Linked DNA regions of Homo sapiens. The protein of the gene in region 3 interacts with the protein of the main gene of each other region in a pairwise test. Each region holds a gene or a part of one and is shown on either strand. Other genes may lie near its edges.

Region 1 (7,603 bases), on a different chromosome or scaffold from region 3:
AAGAACATTTTCAGAGAGAATAGTGGGATAAACGCACTACATTTTCGACCCAGATTCAGCAACGCTTTTTATTTTTATTTTATGCTTTGATGGTGTCTAGATTTAAGTTACATATATAATGACATTAGCTCTTAATACTTTAGTTTGCATATCCAAATAATTGAGAATATGGTCTTGCATAATACCATTATCACAGCAAAAATAGCAATAACTCCATTAATATAACATTTTGGCCAAATAAATGAAAAACCAGAAAACACAGATTACATTTCCACGTCATTATAGCCACTAATAAAGATTTTTAAAGAAACTGTGAGAAAAACAAGAGCTATAATCATGCATGCAACTACAGTACAACCAAGAATCCACAAAAGATTATGCAAAAAGTACCATCAGCTTGCCAAGAATAACCAAAAATTAGACATTTAAAATAAATTGTTTTATTGAATGTTAAGTCCAAAGCTATTTCGAAAGTTCTCGATTTCCCCCATATTCCTACCAGTGTCATGAACTTGAAAATTGGGGATAATCGGCTTCAGAAATTTGAACTCATTTGTCCCGGAACCTCCTGTCAGACACACCTCGTATTGGTAGCTCTGGGACAGGGTCCCGGTGCCGCTCACGTCCACCAGATGCCCTGGAAAGGGACCCTCGGGCACCGAGCAGCGACCCACCGAGGCCGCCCTGCTCCTCCTGCACAGCCGCACCGCCACGAACAGGAGCACCGAGAAGAGGAAGAGCGACGACACCGAGGCCAATGCCACCACCAGGTAGACGGTGAGGGAGTCGGCCTGGGCCTGGGCCGGGGCCGCCTCAGGGAGCGGCAGGTAGGGCTGGGAGAAGCCGTCCACCAGGAGCACGTGCAGCGTGGCGGTGGCCGAGCGAGGAGGCTCGCCATTGTCCTTGACCAGCACCACCAGCCTGTGCTTGGCCGCGTCGCGCTCGCTCAGCAGCCTGGCGGTGCGCACCTCGCCATTGTGCGCCCACACGCCGAACAGCCCGGGCTCCGTGGCCTTGAGCAGCTGGTACGACAGCCAGGCGTTCTGGCCCGAGTCGCCGTCCACCGCCACCACCTTGGTCACCAGGTAGCCCGGCTCGGCCGCCCGGGGCACCAGCTCGGTGCAGGGCGCGGAGCCGTTCTGCAGCGGGTACAGCACGAAGGGCGAGTTGTCGTTGGCGTCCAGCACCAGCACGCGCACCAGCGCCTCGCTGCTCAACGCCGGGGACCCGCGGTCTGTGGCGCCCACGCGAAACTCGAACTCCTGTAGGGCCTCGTAGTCCAGCGACCTGAGGGCAAACAGGTGGCCATTGTCCGCGTTGATGGAGACCAAGGAGGCGAGGGGCAGGTGCCGGTCCTGGGGCGGCAGCAGCGAGTAGTTGACCTGGGCGTTGGTGCCTGAGTCTCTGTCTGTGGCGCTGACGCTGCCGATGTGCAGGGCGGGGCTGTTGTTCTCGCGGACGAACAGGGTGTAGGAGGTTTGGGTGAAGGTGGGGGCGTTGTCATTGACGTCAGAGAGCAGCACGGTTATGTTGTACTCGGTTTTCAGCCTGGGTGTCCCCAAGTCTGTGACGGTGATCGTGATGTTGTACTCGGCTTGGCTCTCTCTGTCCAGTGCTTTTTCAGAAACTAGAGTGAAAAAGTTCTTGAAGGTCGGTTTCAGGAAAAAAGGGAGGTTATCTTGAATAGAGCAAATCATCCTCCCATTGTCTCCAGAGTCTTGGTCTAGGATACTAAAAAGAGCTACTAGGGTCTCTGAGGCATTCTCTGGAATTCTCTTTGTAATCGACGATATGGTCACTTCTGGTGGGTTGTCGTTTATATCCATAACTTTAACTAGAAGGGTGCATTTTCCTGAAAGACCCCCACCATCTGTTGCCTGAATATTTATAGTGTAGGACTGTATTACTTCAAAATCCAGGGGTGATCTCAAATTAACTTCCCCAGATATTGGATTAATTTCAAATGTTTTACGAATATCTTCTGATGCATGGAAAAATGTGTAAGATATTTTTCCATAGTTTCCTGCATCCAGATCCTTAGCTGAGATGGTGGCAATCCAGGAGCCAAGGGGTCTGTCCTCGGGGACTTGCACCTCATAGAGACTCTGAGGAAACTCAGGGGCATTATCATTGATGTCCAACACCTTGATGAGAACCAAAGTTGTCCCAGACTTGGGCGGGGATCCACCATCCACTGCTGTGAGTGTTAATCTGAGTTCAGCTTCCTGTTCATAATCTAAAGCTCTATCTAGGACCAGCTCTGGGTATATCTTTCTGTCACTACTGTCGGGAATTTTAATGTAGAAGTGAGAATTGGGGCTAATTGTGTAGTTTTGGAGACTGTTGCTTCCGACATCCAAATCTTGAGCACTCTCCATTAGAAAGGTAGCTCCAACAGTGGTACCTTCTGATATTTTAATAAGTATTTCCTTGTCTAGAAATGTAGGGGAGTGATCATTTATGTCTTTGACACACAGCTCAAACCGAAAAAACTGTAAAGGGTTTTCCAAAACCACCTGAAAATGCAGCACACAGGGCTCGGTGGAGCCACACAGCTCGTCTCGGTCTAGTTTCTCATTTAGGAGCAAATTCCCAGTCAGCAAATCAAGGTGCAAATACTTTTTATTATCATCAGACACTACCCGGGCTTCACGTGAAGACAGCTCCTCCACCCCCAGCCCTAGGTCCCTCGCTAGATTAGCCACAAAAGAGCCAATTTCTGTTTCCTCTGCCACAGAATAGTGTGCAGATTCAGTACCTGCCCGAGACAATCCCAGCAAAACAAGGAATATTAGAACTTGCCTTTTTCGCAGATCGAGTGCCCCTCTGATCTCCATGGTTCCTTTAGGCAATCTCTTGTGGAAAAACTGAAGCTCAGCCGTAATTTTGGAAGCTGAAGCTCTGGTTTTTAACAGGAACCCCCTGGAGAGTGTATCCTCCAGCAGCTCTGTAGGCGAAGCTCCTTTAATGCCTGTCTTTTCAGTGGGTTGGATGCTTTCTGTTCTCCTGAATAGCGAAGCTCACCGTGCCAGCCTATGTACTGTTTTCGTCTTATCCTGTAGCGCCACCATGTGTCTCCATGTTTTTTTTTTCATTAAAAAAGTTTTCCTCTTTGAAAAAGTAATTCATAAATACATCCGGAACATTCGAAACAAATCCCAGACATCATTTTTTTTCCTTTAAATACTTCACTAAGTATTTTTAATAGGTAAGGCCTTCTAAAAGATAATTGTAATAAAACGTTCACAATCAACAACTTGAGCAATAATTCCTTGGTGTAATTTATACTGCATTTGGTTTTCCCCAGTTCTCTCCAAAATGTCCTTTGCTGTTGGTTTGTTTGAATTTGAATCCAGAAAAGTCCATACACTGCATTATCACTGTTTTGAATGCTCGGCACTAAAGGATCTGTTAAAATATTCTGAACTGAAGAAATAATTTTTTATTTAAGTCATTTCTCGAGTAATTACAAATATATTATCTCCTTCACTCTTGTAAATACTTGTTGTCAGCTATAGTTGGTAATATCATTACTTTTTTCACTTTTATATTTTAAAAATATAAAGAAGGACATGGCACAAATAAGTTAGAGATAATTCTTGCTCTTACAGAGCTCACAAGCTAGAAAAATTGGCAGACAAGTAAACGAAGTATGTCATAATGTATGCATTTATAAAAAGTAATATAGAAATACCTAGAAAAGACTTCTTGTACCTAGGAGGCTGCATACCTTAGTGCTTGGGAATATGGGATCTGGAACCAAATTATCAATATTAGAATCCTGGTTATGTGACTTACTATCTATAAGCTTGGGCAAGTTATAGATACCTTTGTTTCCTCACCTGTAAAATGGGGTAATAATATTTGTCTCCTATGATTATTATCGTAGGCATCTAATGAATTAATATTTACAAAGTGGTTTGTAAGTGCTGGTTAAGTGTCTGTCAAAAATAAAATAATTAAGATCAAAGTCGGACTTGGGACATCAGTGAAAGCTTTCCTGAGGTAATGAAAAATACATTGTGATCTGAAGGAACTAGCCAGGAGAAGGAGGAATATTTCAGATGGGCATTTTGAGGAACACAGAGAAATGAAGTATGCCTTGGACTTTAAAAACTATGGAAGGGGAGGGTCTAACAATGAAATTAGGGTTAAAAGCATGGTGAGAACATGAATCATTATACAGGTCATATCATGCATTCTTGAATTTATCCTAAAGGTAATTCAAGTACAAAGATGGGTTTTAAATATCTGATTAACATGATTACATCTGCATTTTAAAAAATCAGTTTGGCTGCAGTATGGAGAATTAATTTCAGGGGGAGTGACTGGAGAATCAAGGAGATCAGATAAGAGATGATGATCTGGATGAGGATAATGCCAGTGTGGATGGAGAGAAGAGGGATGAATAGAAAGGTATGAGGAGATGAAATGTTTTCAACTGTTGGTTGATAGGTTGCATGGGGAGAAAAATGGGAAAGACTCAGAGATGATATCACACCTCTGGACTGGGCATCTGGATGACTAGTGGTGTCATTCACTAGGACAGGGAATGCTAAAAAAAAACATGATTGGGGTGGAAAAAGATGAAGTGTTCAGTTTTGAACATGCTGATATTGAGGTAAGTGCCTGTAGGATGTGTGTTTGCGTGGTGGTGGGGTGTGTGTGTGTGTGTTTGCATATAACCAAAGCATAGGAAATAAATCTGAGCTGGCAATATGAACTGTGGTGTGTATATATGTATATATATAGAGAGAGACAGAGAGAGACAGAGAGAGAGAGCATATATATAGCATATATATAGAGAGAGAGCATATATATAGCATATATACAGAGAGCATATATATAGCATATATATATATATAGCATTCATGGTTTCAATCACCATATATATATATATATATATATATATACACACCATGAATGCTCTAGGATAACCAAGCAAAAGTGTGTCAAATAAGTATAAAAGAGGCTTGGCACAGAACTCTGAGAAACATCTTCATTTAGAGGAGACAGGGCAAGAAGTATATTTGAAAAGATAAAGAAGGCTCAGAGTTCAAAATCATGAAATCAAAAGCAAATAGCATTTTAAGGAGATAAGGAAGATCAATGGCTGCAAATGCTTCAGAAAAATCAAGAAAAATAAGTATGACAATTATCCAGTGGGCTTAAAAAGATGGTCATTGTGGAGGATTCTGATAGATGTCTGACAAAATCTGTTTTCCTTTGCTTCTATAGTAATAGAACTGTGCCCAGGTATGTGGCCATGAAGGTAGATTGCCCATCCCAGCCTCCCTTGTATTTGAGTGTGGCCAAGTGAATTAAGTTCTCACAGATGGATTGTGAGCAGAATTTCTGTCTTCCCCTTCCAGTTATAGAACAGAAATCATCTGGATATGCCTCTTTCTTCCAAGCGAGCTAGAACCCAGATGTGACAGTGACCCAGCTACAGCCATGCAGATTATATTGCCATAGGGAATGTTGAAGAAATTACTTGAAAGAAAATTTGGTTTCAGAAGGACTGTGAGGATGAAAGCTGCCCTACCTACCTAATAATTTTTACATTGGTACTGTCATGTGAAAAAGAGAGACATGTTTACAAGCCACTGTGTCATTGCATCACATTGGTTCCACAGTATAATCTTAACTTATATGGAAATCTTTGATAACATTTGCAATAGCAGTTTCAGTAGAATGGTTGTGATGAAAATTAGATTGTACTTCGGTGCAAAGTGAGGCGGATGAGGAAGCAAAAATGAGGTAAACCGCTCTTTCAACAATTTTTTTTTTGAGACAGGGTCTCAGTCTGTCACCCAGGCTCACTGGCTCACTGCATCCAGGCTCTCAAGAAATTTGTAAAGAATGAAAAGGCTGTAAAAGGAATAAGAAATACATTGGTATCTGGAGAAGAATTCAGACTCAGAGAGTATTTTAAAGACTAGAGAAACTTGAATATATTTAAAATGCCAATGTGTAATGTTCAGTAGGGAAGGAGAAAATTAAGATACAGAAGGGATAATGCAAGTCCCCTAGAAAGGTTGTTAAAGATGGGATCCAGGCAATGTATGAAGTGTTTGGATTTAGACCAGTGGGACGGACCTCAGCAGGTGAAAAGTATAGATACAGATGCTGTTAAAGCTGTGGAGTAGGGGACAGGAAAATGAATTTCTAGCTGATGGATTCTATTTTCTCAATAAGGTATCAGGCAAGTTCATCGGATAAAAGGGGGTATCTAAGTGGTAGGGTAAGAAGTTTAAAGTAAGATACGTAGGTTTAAAATAGTTGTTGTGGAGCGTAGAAGAGAAAGCTCGTTAGAAAAATTATAAAAGGAGTTCTTGGTCTCAGAAGCCCAATTAGGTTTGAATATTATACATTTATAGTGGCAGTGGTATTGCTAATTTTGTAAGTTTGGTCTTATAGAGTGCAGCACCCCATGTGTAAGAGAGGAGGAGGACTATATTCATCTGGGCTGGAGTTTCATCAGGTGGTTTTAGTGAAGGAAAATTGAACAAGGGAATTGAGAATATGGGCATGAGAGCAACTGGGAGTGGTAAACCAGGAAATCAGCTGAATAGGAAGGAAATTAAAACAGGAGCGTTTGATAGGTAGTAACAGCACCATGGAATGGAGCTCTGATAAGGTCAAAGACAAGATGTGATAGAAACAGCAGAATGAGAAGGTTATAGGCATAGACAATTGTGCACTCAGAGGGAGATAGCTGAAATTATTATATCATAGAACAGTTTCTTGGTGGGGAAAAAGTACAATATGTAGCCAGGGCATTAATGACTGAAAAACAGGAGTAGAGGTAAAGACTTAGGGACTGAGAGGCCATGTTGTTAGATTAATCAGTGGACCCAGGAGTGGTGGTAGAACTTGAAACAGAAAGATAAAGAGAACAATGTGTTTGTAAGATAAAATGTCCTATGTCCCTTTTCCCTCCCATACTATTGCCTAAATAAAAAAAAAATACTGTTATTTGGTTTTTATTGTAAGCGTTTTCAGGAGAATCCATTCTGTAAGGCTGGGCCATCTCTTGTGTCTCTATTTTCTAAGTGTCCTTTAACCCCCGCTAGATAAAAAATTATATTCTAAGTTACTTACAACCTATAGTTCTTTCATATAAAATTGGCTGATACAGCTTGATTCCTATGCACTGTTTTAAGTATAACTATAAATGAGGTCTTTGAAGCATATAAGCAAAATTCGTTTTTAGCAATGCATTCTAGGAGAATTGGTTGGTTATATGTATCTGGGCATTTGAGCTCCTGAATGCCTGGTCACTCTTCATTAGAGCCAGGAAACTCATAGTTCTTTTTATAAAGAGAGGAGTCCTGCTGCTCATATATCTAGAAAAACTGGAAGTAACAGGACAAGTACTTGGCCCTTCTCTCCACTGTTGCACCAGCGAGATTTTCTGTCTGAGTTGTTTGAACTACTCTTTCCCACTCCACCAGTAGATATGAGAAGATCACAGGGAAGCTGCTAGAATAACTCCCACCTTTGGAGGCCAGAAGTTCAACAGCCTGGGCGACATGATGAGAACCCATCTCTACAAAAATTTTTTTTAAAATAGCTGGGGGTGCTACTCGGGAGACTGAGG
Region 2 (7,029 bases), on a different chromosome or scaffold from region 3:
TGGATCACCTGAGGTCGGGAGTTCCAGACCAGCCTGGTCAACATGGTGAAATCCCATCTCTACTAAAAATACAAAAATTACCTGGGCATGGTGGCAGGCACCTGTAATCCCAGCTACTCAGGAGGCTGAGGCAGGAGAATCACTTGAACCTGGGGAGGCGGAGGTTGCAGCAAGCCAAGATTTCGCCACTGCACTCCAGCCTGGGCAACAGAGCAAGACTCCGTCTCAAAACAAAAAACAAAACAAAAAAAATAGTAAGTCCAAATTCCTGACCTTGACTTCCAAGCCACGTGTAATCTAATTCTGGCACACTCATTAACTCCTGGTCAATATTAACTCTTGTTATTGCTGGGCAATCTTGCTCAGTGGTTAAGTGCCATGGACTGGGGGTTGGACGCACACTTATGCTTGAGTCCTGACTCTGTCACTTACTTGCTGTGTGACCTTGGGTGGGTGAATGAACCTCTCTGAATCACATAATCTTGAACTGTCTTGTTTGATCATGCCCATGTTCCTCCCCTTCTCCAAACTCTTCAGTGGCTTCTCATAGCAGTCAGGATAAAATCCAAACTCCTCACCTTGGCCTAAAGGCCCAGTATGGTCTGGCCTTTGCTGACCTCTCTGAACTCATCTCAAAATGTTACTTTTCTTCAACCTTTCCACTCTACACTCTTTTCCCCGCAACTTCTTTTAGTTTCCCAAACTGGCCAAGCTTTCTTGCCTCCAAGCCATTGTACATGCTGTTCCCTCTACCAAAAATACTTTCCCAGTTCTTCATTCTTACTCTTTGCATCTCAGCTCTGATGTCCCCTCCTCCAGGAAGCCCTCCTGGACCACCCCCCCCCCCACCGAAATCAGAAACCCTCTCTGGGCTCCCACAGTCCCTGGGATCCCCTACCCCAGCCCTGCTCCCTCAAGTCATCACCGTCTTCCCCACCCCCCTACTAGACTGGCTCAGTCATCCATGTGTCCCCAACCTCATCGAGCATGGGGCAGGTGCTCAGGGAACGGCTGTAGAAGAAATAATCCAGAATCAAGGCTAAGCAGGAAGTTTCTGTAGTCAGCTCTCCACACCTCTATCCAAGGCATGACCTTGGGAAAATTACCAAACATGTCTGAGTCTTTTATTTATGAAATAGTGAAATAGTATGCATCTTACCGCATTGATGATTCTATCAAGAACTAACAATGAGAGTTGAGGAGGTGCTGAACTAAGCAACTTACCCATATTAGCTCATTTAATCTTCACAGCAACGCTTTGAGGTGCAGACTATTTTTATCTCCATTTTACAGATGCAGCAACTGAAGTACAGTAACTTACTCAGATGACACAGTTCAGTGGCAAAGTTGTGATCGGAGCCCAGGCAGCCTGCCTCCAGAGTCACTACTCGACACTGCATTTAATGAAATCCTGCCTGTGCTGATGACCCCAGGTGTGGACCTGAGTCAGGCCTCCTAAATCTGGTTCCATTCCTGGCTCTTGACAGTTACTAGCTATCGGAACTGAGGCAAGTCATTTCATTTTTCTGAGCTTCAGTTTCCCTAGCTATAAAATGGGGCGAAGGACAGCATCCACCTCACAGGGCTGCAGCAAGGCTTTGATGAGACATGTAAAAGGCTTGCAACAGCGCAGGCACACAGCCTACTCTGAAGACACTCACCTGCACGTCGGTCCTCCCGGCGGTCTTCCGACAACACGTAGCGCTGAGGGCAGGCGCTTGGGGGCGGCGGCTGTGAAGAGGGGGCCGCAGGGGGCTCCTCCGCCCCAGCACCTGCCCCCGGCGCCGCCACACCTGGCCCCAGGATGGCAAAAATGGTCTCCTCTTCCGCGGAGAAAGCGTCCTCCGCGGCGGGCCCGGCGCCCTGCGTGGAGTGCGGCACGCGAGCGAGCTTCTCCTTGGTGCGGCGCTTGAAGTCGTTCCAGCGCTTCTGCACCTCCTGGCCCGTGCGCTTCCAGCTGGTGATACCGTTGATCTTGGCGGCGATGCCGTCCCACACGCGCCGCCGCTCTGCCACGCTCACCCGACGGCTCTGCGCGCCGTAGAGCTGCGGGTAGTGGGCGCGCACCTCGCGGATCAGGATCTGGTTCTCTTCGAATGAGAAGCGCGGCTTGCGCAACCGGGTGGTTTCCTCCGCTTCGCCCGCCGCCGCCGAGGCCATGGCGCCCCCCGACGCCGCCGTCCTGCCGTCTGGCGCATGGGGGGCGCCGGCGCTGCGGGCAAAGGGCGCACGGGGCTGGCTGGGGTTCGGGGTCCCCCCGCCGCCGCCTCTCCCAGACCGCCGGGCCGAGAGCTCCTTAGTCCCCGGGGGCAGGAGTGGGGGCGGGGGGCGGGCGGGGGCGACGGGCACCCGGGTAAGTCGGAAGCGCCTAAGAGTAGCTGACACCGGCTGAGCGCTTGGCTCGGACTTCGCGCGGCGCGAAGTGCCACGCTGAAGAGTTGATAGAAATTGGGGGAGGGTCTGGAGGGATGGAAGGAAAGGAGGAAAAGTGCGAGGAGAGGAGGTGTCTGCAGGAGTTAGAGAATGGGGGCACGGGAGGATAGGAAATGGAGGGAGGATGGGGGTGCCTCGGGGGGGTCTTAGATGCATGAAGATAAGGAGATGCGGAAGGGGGGATGCAGCAAGAAGGGGGGAATCTGGAGCAGAGGAGGCGCTCTAGGGGCTCTAGGGGGCAACGGGGCGTCTGTAAGACCGATATGAGAAGGGCCCTTAGAGGGATGTCCAGGAATAATGGTGAGGTGGGAGCTCCTGTATCACTGGAAGAGCTGGAACGATCAAATATTAGGGATCAGGGTCTGCGAGGATTGTGGGGGCTCTGGGGATTGCCAGAAATTAAGGGGAGCTCTGGAAATAACGGGGGTCCCGTATCACAAGGAGACAACGGAGGCTACGGGGGACGGCAGGGAGAGCGAAGGTCGCGGAGGGTGGGGACCGAGTCGGGCCACGGGTCACTCACCGGCTCCGCCGCAGCCGCCGGTGGGTCAGGGCTCGGGCTTCTGCGGCCTGTTCCCACCCCCCGCCTCCCTCCCTCCCCTCTTTCGGCCCCGCCTCCGGCCGCCCCGCATGCCAAGGCGCAGGCGCGCCCAGGGCCAGTCGGCCCCAATGCCCTTACCGCCAGGGTTTCATTCCCACCTACCCCAGCACAGCGCAGGCGCAGAACTGCGCTCCGCCGAGCCCCACCAGCAGGCCGCAACTGCGCAGCCGCAACGTTAGCGCCGCGCGGGTACCCCAGCTTCCTGGGGCCACAACGGCGCACGCGCAAAAACTCCATCGCGCGCATGCGCGTGCCTCGGGTTGTACCCGGTACCGGGTCTCGGCGCAGGCGTTGCGAGCTTGGATGGGAGAGATGCTGGGAGCGCGCCAGTACCCAACCTTTCGGACAGTCTTCCAGCCCACCCTGCCCTCTAACCAAAGGGGAGGGAGACAGCGCTGAAGGGAAGCGCTTTGTCTCCTTGACAACTGTGTGGGTGGGGTGGAGGCGTGAGGAAACCGCTTTGCCTCCTGGCTTGCCCGCCCCTGCGCTGGGCCGCTCCAGAGCTTCCCACCTCGCACCCCTAGAGGCTGGGCGTCCTGGGGATGTCCCGCCCCGGGCGGATGCAGTAACCATAGCGACCCACAAGCCTTCCAGTCACGCCTTGGGGGCCCCTCTGTGCGCACCTTTACCTCGAGGAGCGGGGAAAATAAGAGGGAAGAGCTTCCTGGCTGGTAGGAAGGGAGATCCTGACGCCGGCACGACTTTAAGCAAGTGCATGGAGACAGGAATGAAGCCAGAACGCAGGTGGGGTGAGCCGCATGGCAGGATGATGGAGCTCAGTCCGGCTGAGAAGTGTGTTCGTTAGCATCCTGCAGGAGTCCTCAAGGTCATTCGACAATTGGTGCTTCATTCATCGACTCAATAAATATACATGAGCACTTACACAGTTCCTGGTACAATGAACATAAAAGCTAAAATCCGTAGCCTGGGCCGGGCGCGGTGGAGCTCACGCCTGTAATCCCAGCACTTTGGGAAGCCAAGGCGGGCGGATTACCTGAGGTCAGGGGTTCGAGACAAGCCTGGCCAACACAGTGAAACCCCATCTCTACTGAAAATACAAAAACTAGCTGGGCATGGTGGTGCATGCCTGTAATCCCAGCTACTCGGGAGGCTGAGGCACGAGAATCGCTTAACCCCGGGAGGCAGAGGTTGCAGTGAGCTGAGATTGCACCACTGCACTCCACCTGGACGACAGAGTGAGACTCCGTCTCAAAAAAAAAAAAAAAAAAAATACATGCCTGTAGTCCCAGCTACTTGGGAGGCTGAGGCGGGAGGATCGCTTGAGCCCAGGAGTTGCAGGCTGCAGTGAGCTATGATCAGGCCACTGCTCTCCAGCTTGGGCAACAGAGTAAGACCCTGTCTCAAAAGAAGAGAGAGAGAAAAAAAAGGCCCCTCTGCCTGCTGTGTGGAGGGTGGGTGGGAGGGAGCAAGACTACTGGGTAGAGTCAAAAAAAGTCATGAGCAGGGGTAAGAAAAGGATTAGGAAAGCGAGGGGAGACTAAACTAAGACAGGGACAGTGTCAAGGGGGACACGGAGAGACATTTGAGAGAATATATGGAAAGCATGGTGAGTGTCGCGCTAGCGAGGGAAAGGAAGATGTCTAGGTGAAACCCAAGTCTCTGGCCCAGGTTCTCACTTGGGGGTGTGGGGTCAGGTAAGATGTGGTGAATGTAAGGCTGGGTGCAGTGGCTCACGCCTGTAATCCCAACACTTTGGGAGGCTGAGACAGGTGGATCATCTGAGGTCAGGAGTTCGAGACCAGCCTGGCCAACATGGTGGAACCCTGTCTCTATTAAAAATTCAAAAAAAAAAAAAATAGCTGGGTGTTGTGCCATGTGCCTGTAATCCTAGCTACTCGGGAGGCTGAGGCAGGAGAATCTCTTGAGCCTAGGAGGCACAGATTGCAGGGAACCGAGATCTCACCACTGCACTCCAGCCTGGGCGACAGAGTGAGACTCTGTCTCAAAAAAATTAAAAAAAAGGCCGGGCGCAGTGGCTCATTCCTGTAATCCCAGCACTTTGGGAGGCCGAGGCAGGTGGATCACGAGGTCAGGAGATTGAGACCATCCTGACTAACATGGTGAAACCCCGTCTCTACTAAAAATACAAAAAATTAGCCGGGAGTGGTGGCAGGCGCCTGAAGTCCCAGCTACTCGGGAGGCTGAGGCAGGAGAATGGCATGAACCCGGGAGGCTGAGCTTGCAGTGAGCTGAGACTGCGCCACTGCATTCCAGCCTGGGGGACAGCGTGAGACTCTGCCTCAAAAAAAAATTAAATTAAAAAAATAAGAACAACAACAAAAAAAACACAATCAAAAAAAGATACGTGAGTGTAAAGTGACCAACAGGTTGAACTGTTTCCCCCAAAAAGAGAGGCTGAAGTCCTGATCCCCCAGTGCTTCAGAATGTGACCTTATTTGGAAATAGGGTCCTTGGAGAGGGAATTCGTTGAGAGGTAGCCATACCAGTGTAGGGTGGACCCGTCATTCCTCATTCCCGGTGTCTTTATAAGAAGAGGAGACACACAGGGAAGACAATTCTATGGTGACAGAAGTGGAGACGGGGGTGACGCAGCCACAAGCCCAGGAAGGCCCTGTGCTATCAGAAGCTGGAAGAAGCCAGGAAAGATCACCCGCTGGAGCCTTGTCCGGAGTGAGGCCACGCCCATGCCTTGATTTCGGATTTTCAGCCTGGTGAATCTGGGAGACAATACGTTTCTCTCTCTCTGTTTTTTTTTTTTTTTTGAAATGGAGTCTTGCTCTGTTGCCCAGGCTGGAGTACAGTGGCACGATCTCGGCTCGCTGCAGCCTCTGCCTCCCGGATTCCAGTGATTCTCCTGCCTCAGTCTCCCGGGTAACTGGGATTACAGGCGCATGCCACCATGCCCAGCTAATTTTTGTATTTTTAGTAGAGACGGGGTTTCACAGTGTTGGCCAGGCTGGTCTTGAACTCCTTACCTCAGGTGATCCGCCTGTCTCGGCCTCCCAAAGTGCTAGGATTACAGGTGTGAGCCACCGTGCCTAGCCACGTTTCTCGTTTTAAACCACCCAGTTTGCGGTACCTTGTCATGGCAGCCACAGGAAACAAATGCACTGGGGACCCCGGGAAGGCATTCGGGGAGCTGCATTCAGGGAGCTGCTGCCTCCATGGCAGTCCAGGCAGAGAGTTGAGTCTAAACCTGGCTCTGGGTTCACGAGGCGGTGGGAGGTGGAGAGCCACAGCAGTGGGGTATGGAGCTCCACAGATGTGGGTAGCTGGAAGCTGGATGCAGGAAGTCAGAGGGCAAGACTCCTGGGGTGAGGGTGGGTCAGGGAAGGCTTTCTAGGGCCACATTTTCTTTCTTGTCTTGCCTCTTTTCTTTTCTTGATGGAGTTTTGCTCTTGTCGCCCAGGCTGGAGAGCAATGGTGCGATCTCGGCTCACAGCAACCTCTGCCTCCCTGGTTCAAGCGATTCTCCTGTCTCAGCCTCCTGAGTACCTGGGACTACAGGGGCACGCCACCACACTTGGCTAATTTTTGTTTTTTTTTTAGTAGAGATGGGATTTCACCCGTGTTGGCCAGGCTGGTCTCAAACACCTGACCTCAGATGATCCACCTGCCTTGTCCTCCCAAAGTGCTAGGATTATAGGCATGAGCCACTGTGCCTGGCGAAGGGCCACATTTTCAAAACTGTGAGTTGTGAGTCCTTTTTTTTTTTTTTTTTTGAGACAGAGACTTGCTCTATGACCCAGACTGGAGTGCAGTGGTACAATCATGCAATCATGACTCAAACTTCCAGGCTCACCCTCCCACCTCAGCCTCTAGAGTAGCTGGAACTACAGGCACACACCATCATGCCCGGCTAAGTTTTAAAATTTTTTGTAGAGACAAGATCCCACTGTGTTGCCTAGGCTGGTCCCAAATTCCTGGGCTTGAGCAATCCTCTGTGAGGCCTCAGCCTCCAAGAGTGTTGGGATTACAGGCGTGAGCCACTGAGTCCAGCCAAAACTGTGAAT
Region 3 (7,022 bases):
TTGCACGCAGTGTAATGTTCTGAGCCTCTCAATATTGTAATGAGTTTCTACGAGTGAGTCTTTACTAAAGGAATCCAGAAACTAAGGAGACACTGATGTATGGACCAGATGTTAAAGAAAATGTTTTGACCCAGCAGATACTCTGATAGAATACTGGCTATTATTTTTGTAAAGCCGATGTGATTGCAACATAGGCACGTAATCTTTATCATTAGAGATGAATAGCAGCATCTGGACACCAACCCATCAAACTGCTTTTCAAATTCTGCAGTTTTTCTCATCTTCTGCTGAATCTTGGGATGTCTTTTTATATTCCTTGGTTTTAGCTCCTAAACTCTAAATTCTAATTTTCAAAACTGAAACATCTCTGAATCTACTTCTTTCTAAAGAATTGCAGCCATCTCACCAAATTTCCTTTAAAAAAGGATTGAATTGTCAAATAGGAGGAAATTGTTTTGTATTGTGAGTCTGGTTAGGTTTATCAGTCTCTTGAAACCCGGTTGAAATATTTTTTTCTTGGTTTTAAACAAGAATGCTTTAATATTGTGGATATTGTCTGGAACTAGAACGTGACATTTTCAAGCTGACATTACAGGTGATTTTATAAGGTAAGTACTACTGGTTTTGCCAAAAGGTTGAAAAGGAATTCAGGTGGTGGGGGAAGTGTTAATGGGATTTGCCTTACATAGCGTTTTTTCCTCCTTTCTCTACAATAAAATCCGAACGTAGGTGGTAAATATTAATGCTTTCATAGCTATTTTGCCCAGGACAAGGGCAGAGCTACAGCTGTGTATATTTCTTGAGCCTTAGCATTTTATGTTGATCAGTGTTTTTACATATGCGACTGTTTTTTTAACAAGGCATGGTGACTGATGTTTAGGAATTTTAAGTGTTTTGACCCAGGTTAGTATTGGGGGTGTGGGCTATGTAGAATTAGATATTGAAATCACTTAGTCTTGTTTTTAAACTGCAAACCAAAAGAAGTTCTTCACTGTAGCAAATTACAGTCTTGAAATTCCCCCAAAATCTTTGCTTTGAATTGGGTTTTGGAGGTTACATTGAGATTGATGTTATCAACATAGATTGTTACCTGACAGTTTGGATAAGGGGCCCCTTTTTCTCTAATTTTTGTGGTTAGAAATTAGGTTAAAAGGTAGTCTTCTGAAAAGTCAAAAGATATTTATATTTGCTTTTGTTGGGGAGTACTGACTGTTTTATGAATGTAAATTTAACAGTCTGTGCTATATTTACAAGAGAGTTTTTATAAGCACAGGCCTACAACTAATTTCAGATGATGTTTTTTTCCAGACACTATTCTCCAGTTTTTGAGGATTTACTTATCCATTTACTCTTCTGGTAGACAGTTTGGCTGCCAGAAAAAAATATAGTCCTTATTATATTGATATGAGCATTGACCTTTCCATAACAGGATTAATGAGGTTTTCTTTGCCCCTGTCCCTCCCAATTTTTAAAATATTGCCTTGTCAGTCAACTTAATGAGTTTGTGCATGTTTAATGTTAAATGGATTCTAGTTGTATCCCCTAGAAACATTTTAACAAAAATTGTGTTGATAGGACAAGTTTCTGTTTATTTCTAACTAGGGTCTCTTAACTAAATGTACATAACATTAGCCCAAGAGTTGATCTTCTGGTTTTATAAAGTAGCCACTTGAACTTAGCTGAGTTGAATTAAATCTAATATTTATAATAATTTAGTAATGGTTTTGTTCTTAGACTATAAGAGAAGGAACCAGGTTAGGAAGGGGTAATGAAGTAACAGCAGGAAGGTATCCACATTGAAAACAGTTGTGATAGCTAGAGCTATGGCCTCTATTCTTGTATCTTCTGCATCTAAGTGCCCTGTCTGTATCGAAGTTTTAGGAGGCCCTAAGGAAACCTGCTTGGGCATTCTGATTCCATGATTACATTTGTGCTGCCAGAAAACATTTCCCATTGCATTTTAGTGATGGAGATTTAAAGAAAGCCAATTACTGTAACTCCCTTAAATAAAAACATATTTAAAAATTTTCGGATTAAATAAACAATAATTGACTCTAAAACTAGACTGGAAATTATCCTTTTGTTAGGAAAGACATCACAGCACTTGCCAGATTAACGATGGTTGTCTTTATGCCCAGATAGGTATAAAGACTTGCAATTTTTTTAAACAAAGCCTTACATTTTTTTCAGGAGGAAAAACCAGGAGAGGAAGTAATTGACAATAAAATGAAAGATCATCAAAGTGAAATGTAGGATAACAAGAAAAACTAGCATGTTTTATGTAGGCAGTATTTTATTTTGTTTAGTATGTTCAACAGACATTTACAGATCAACTAAATTCAATCTTTTTAATTATTTGAGGAGGTGAGCTGTAATTTAAATAGTGCCACCTTTTAAAGTAGTATTTCTCCTTTGGACATCCAGAAGACTTAATATTTTCTAAATTGAGGGGGAAAATGTACAACAAAACTCTTTGAAAATACCAGTGTTGGATTCAAGTTTGTTCTGCTTTCCTTCATAGCTACTGGCATATTGTAGGTGGTTGACTTGATTTTGTCTTTTTATGATTCATACTATAAAATCTCACTAGAGCAGCTTTTCCAGGGGGTGGGTTACACTTAAGCTCCAAATTGTCAGGTTCCCTGACACCGTCTTTCTGCAGAGCTCTTTAAATACAGTACAAAAATGTGTGACGCTAAATACGTTTCTTTATCCTATCTAGACAAGTCACAATACTGTAAACCTCTTCAACCCTGAGCGTTTGTCATTGTACAAATGAATTGTCCGTGCTTTCCTTTCATGCACTTATGTATTAATGTGTCACTTTTTGACTAGAGGTGTGCTTTTGACACTTAACCTATTTTCTATTGAATATAATAAGAAGTGTGAAATGTAACTAATAGTTCTTAAAATGTTAAATGAACAGTAAATGTTCAGTGGCGCACTTCACATTCAACTTAAGCATGATAAGTCTATTTGGAGTAGAGAAATGAGATTACCATATATTCTAGAACCAGCAGAAAACTATGTAGTTTTCAGTTTTTTGAGCTGCATATTCTAGTTTCTTTTTTTTTTTTTTTAATCCAAATCAACAAAGGGATTTTTTTTTTCTAGTTTCAGTTTTGGCACTGGATTTTATCCTGGAGTTTTAAAATATTCTTCATCCTGTTCTTTTTCTATTAAGGTTAATGTTGAAGAAGGAAAATGCGGAAGTCGTCATTTGACAAGTTTTATAAATGAGTATTTGAAGCTCAGGAATAAGTGAAGCTGAAATTTGAAAAAATAAAAGAAAGAATGCATGCTAATTATCAGACCAGAAGTCCCACTTGTAGAATATTGAGCAATTTGTGTGAAGTGGGGAAGATGAAAGAAGTCAGAATTTGAAACGGAAGAATGAAGAAAAGAAATAAAAATGAAGTTAAGATAAGAAGTAATCTGGAATCAGAAAGCACTACGCTAAGTAATTACTAGTCTGTTTATGTGTCCCTGTATATTTTGCTAAACATGCATGCATTATTTGTTTAATAGAGGAAAATATATACAGGGTAAAGAAGTGCCTTCCAGGGGAAACGTTTAAATTAGGTAATTCTGATTTTAACTGCTTAGTTAAATGATTGAAATGCAATTTTTAAAAAATATTTAGTAGTCAAGCACCAGGCAGCAGTGAGCTCTCCAGCATGGGTAACAGTGGGCTTCATGTTGTCCTCTCTAGATAAACTTTACCTGTCTAATGTTGCTGGTCCTGGGGCATGAGCGAATACCTCCAGGGTTGGAACTGGTGGTCTTTGCCACCTCCCTGGACTCTTAGATTGCACTGTCCCCTTTCCTTCAGTACTGAGCAATGTATAGTAGAATATTTTCTGTTAAACCATTTTCAAAGGAATGTCACCAGGATGGTTATGGAACCAAACCCCCAAAATCCAAACAAAGCATTGAACAAAATAGTTCCCTTTGGCATTAGTGTGTTAGTTTTTTCCATATGGCACTAGTGGAAATCTGTGAGCATTTGGGCCCTAAATTTAAGATGCATATTTGCTAAATACACAGGGATGGTTTTTCAAATTCTGTTTCTGTTTAATGCCTATTTCAGCTGATTGACTAGGATTACTGATAAAATACCGTAGCTTCCCCTTAGAAGAGGTGGGTCACACAAGTGAACAGGATAGCTAATACAAATTGCAGTAATGGCAGATGCTTTCATTCCTATTTCTCCTTTTTTGCTATCAACATTTAGCTATTGTAATGTTAGAGGTAACGGTTACAAAGTAGCTTTATTCTGGTTACCTGGTATCCCTTGCACTTATTGAGAAATTCAACCCAAAAGCTGTCCCTTCTTTTCTGTGTGTTTTGTTTTAGCTGAGTAGAAGGGTCAAGTGATTGGTGTAATGTTACTTTCAGTTGAATGAGACAAGTACACATATCAAAAATAATACCCAGTAGTAGTCAGCCAGCGGTTTTCTACCCAGTTGAGAATGCCAAGGGTATCATGTCACACATGTCTTCCTGAAATAAACTTTCTCTGAGAGTTGTCAGGTCTTCATGCTCTTGGAGAAAGTGACTTAAATGGCATTTCTTGGAGAATCCATTTTCTGATGCTTTCAGGCCTGTTTATTTCTATATCTTGCAAGCAGAAGAAAATTTTCTCTTAAGAAGTTTTGCATTCCTTTGTCAAATTTCTTGCCATAGATAAACTAATGATGATAAATGTTATTTTATGTTCCAAATTACTCAAAGAGCAGGCAGGAAACTGAGGTAAATGTGTGAATGAATATTACATTTTAATTCCAAGCCCATGGATTCTTTTATCAAGAAACCTGACAGGTCCTTGGGGTGCAAAAGAGGAAAAGACCTCTTAACCCCCAGCCCACTAAAGGAAAGAAAGCAATTTGGAATCTGGTTATGACCCAAGCTGGATAGACTTAAGGTGAGAAAACGTTGCTAGTGGACCATTGTGTCCATTTGTTTTTGTTTTCCCCCTTGACCAAAGCATCTGTGGGTCCTAATGTGTCTCCTCCTCGGGCCATAGGGAAGATGAGGAGGAGGCCGGCTTCTGTTCCTGAGAACAGGCAGTGTGTGAAAGACTGCCTTAATCAGAGGTCTGATTAATGCTAAGGGGAGTCAAAACAAGGAAGGGGATGACAGTGTTTCAGGAAGATAACCTTTGCCAAGGGAAAAAAATGAGTAGGAAGCATGTAACTTCTGAGGTTGACTAAGTCAAGTAAGTCAGACTTAACTAGTATGATAAACAGTGTTTTAAGAGATGCAGTGTTTATGAGCCACTATTTTAAATCTAACAAACCACATTCAGTTTTTAAAATAATACAGGGATTGGATGGTTAGTCCTTTCAAATATGTTTTTGTAAGGTGGTTGCTGTTCTCAGAATAGGGAGATGTGGATTATTTTGTTGGAAGGCTAAGTGTGTTGTATTTTTACTTGATGTATTCCCTTTAGGTTTTGTATTAGGATGTGGCTGAGATCCAGTCTGTGAGAGCTTGATTGATTTCCTGAGCATTTTTTCAGGGAAATTTTGGTTTTATTCATGCTAATTTTAGTTTCATGGTCCCTTTTTTTGAGGCAGTGGTGTCCAGTTCTGTCTGTTGGTGTGGTTTTAATGTGTTGACCATGTCAGCCCTGAGAGTGGAATTTGAAGTATGCTTAGATTTAGGGACTTCCCCAACTGGTTTTTATAGCTTTACCTGTCTGCATTGAGATTTAAAGTTAATTATGCTTTTGATTTGGGTGCTAATTTTAGGTCTTATTTCTTGTAGGCAAGTTTTATTCCCTTGCCATATGTATTTCCCAGCCAGTTAAATGGCCAAAATAACTTCAGAAAGCTTTAACTTCTTTAAGAAAATATCCCTGATAAAGGATCGAGACGTTTAGGTGTTACCCAAACAAGTGTCAGTATAGAAAAGGAAGCCTTTGCATTCTGGTATTTCCCTTATTCCTGGCCCAAGAAATGATTGCTTACAAAATATATCTGCATAGTCCGTTAGTTTTGGAGGCTGAGTGAAAACTCCTGTGATTTCAGAAATATTGTATCTGTGATCTGCTAGATTTTAAGGAGAAAACTTCATTAAGTCTTATTTTCTAGGTTAGGAGTACTGTCTCTTCCCTCAGTGGACAGGCTGCCGAAGCATCTTAGCTTAGAATAAAGGTTTTTCTGTTAAAGCCAGGAGCTTAAAGAGGATCTTGACTTGACCCATTCTTCCTTTATACTCAGATTCCTGGGCTGACTGATTTCTGTTAACTACAGTTACTTTATTGGTAGTCTTAACTGTTACTGTGAAACACCCATATTCTGCTTTCACTTCTGGAGAAAATTGTTTCATTTCCATAGAGGTAATCTTTCTAGTGTTGGAGTAAACAGGCTTTTAGCAACTTTTGGGTTCCCCATTTCTATATTCTCACCTATGTTAATTTTTGCCTGTGGTAAAAATAGCAAAAACTACACCCTCATTTTTGAGACTTCCTCCTTTGTCCATGGAGAGAAGGGAAGTGTCCGTTCAGAATACTTGATAGGGAATTCCAAGGGATTGTTGTTAATTGGAAGCCCCAGAGCATCACTACATCCTTTAACCATTTCTTGATGTTAAAGGCAGCTGTTCATATATTTTTCTTTTAATCTTTTTACAGTCAGTCATGGAGGGAGGTAGAGGGGAAAGGCTGTCACATTTCATGTCACCCCACCATGTTTTATAATGGCTTTGAAGTCATTTGAACGTTTCTAGAGTCGTCTGGGGCCTAGAGACCTGAACTCATTTTACTGGATGAGTTAGCCTTTCCTTCTGTGTTAAACCTCAAACCTTAATTTGTCTATTCTGTGTTACATTATAAATGTTTTCCCTGAGCATCAAAGGATCATCCAAATTTTCTCCATTATGTTGTAAACCACAAAACTATCTTCTAAAGTGTTTTGAGCTGTAATTTAGAATAATCCTCTACTGTCCTTTCAAGAATGTCCAGAATACTCTGAAGATGTATCACACAAGGAAATCTCTTGTGATTTTATCTGAAAGCT

The links. Proteins that work in one complex are often made in the same cells at the same time.
Region 1: the proteins of TRA2B (region 3) and PCDHB14 interact in binary tests that used the Homo sapiens proteins (3 or more experiments, as listed by UniProt).
Region 2: the proteins of TRA2B (region 3) and MYPOP interact in binary tests that used the Homo sapiens proteins (3 or more experiments, as listed by UniProt).

Annotation. Positions count from the first base shown.
Region 1 is NC_000005.10:141,218,740-141,226,342, reverse strand, and holds the start of PCDHB14 (protocadherin beta-14 precursor), read right to left. Parts: upstream 3,001-7,603; 5' UTR 2,838-3,000; coding exon 441-2,837; 3' UTR 1-440. UniProt on the Homo sapiens protein: Potential calcium-dependent cell-adhesion protein. May be involved in the establishment and maintenance of specific neuronal connections in the brain.
Region 2 is NC_000019.10:45,899,614-45,906,642, forward strand, and holds the start of MYPOP (myb-related transcription factor, partner of profilin), read right to left. Parts: upstream 3,001-7,029; 5' UTR 2,957-3,000; intron 2,213-2,956; 5' UTR 2,161-2,212; coding exon 1,662-2,160; intron 1-1,661. UniProt on the Homo sapiens protein: Transcriptional repressor; DNA-binding protein that specifically recognizes the core sequence 5'-YAAC[GT]G-3'. Dimerization with PFN1 reduces its DNA-binding capacity.
Region 3 is NC_000003.12:185,928,015-185,935,036, reverse strand, and holds part of TRA2B (transformer-2 protein homolog beta), read left to right. Parts: intron 1-3,276; exon of another isoform or gene 3,277-3,460; intron 3,461-7,022. UniProt on the Homo sapiens protein: Sequence-specific RNA-binding protein which participates in the control of pre-mRNA splicing. Can either activate or suppress exon inclusion. Acts additively with RBMX to promote exon 7 inclusion of the survival motor neuron SMN2.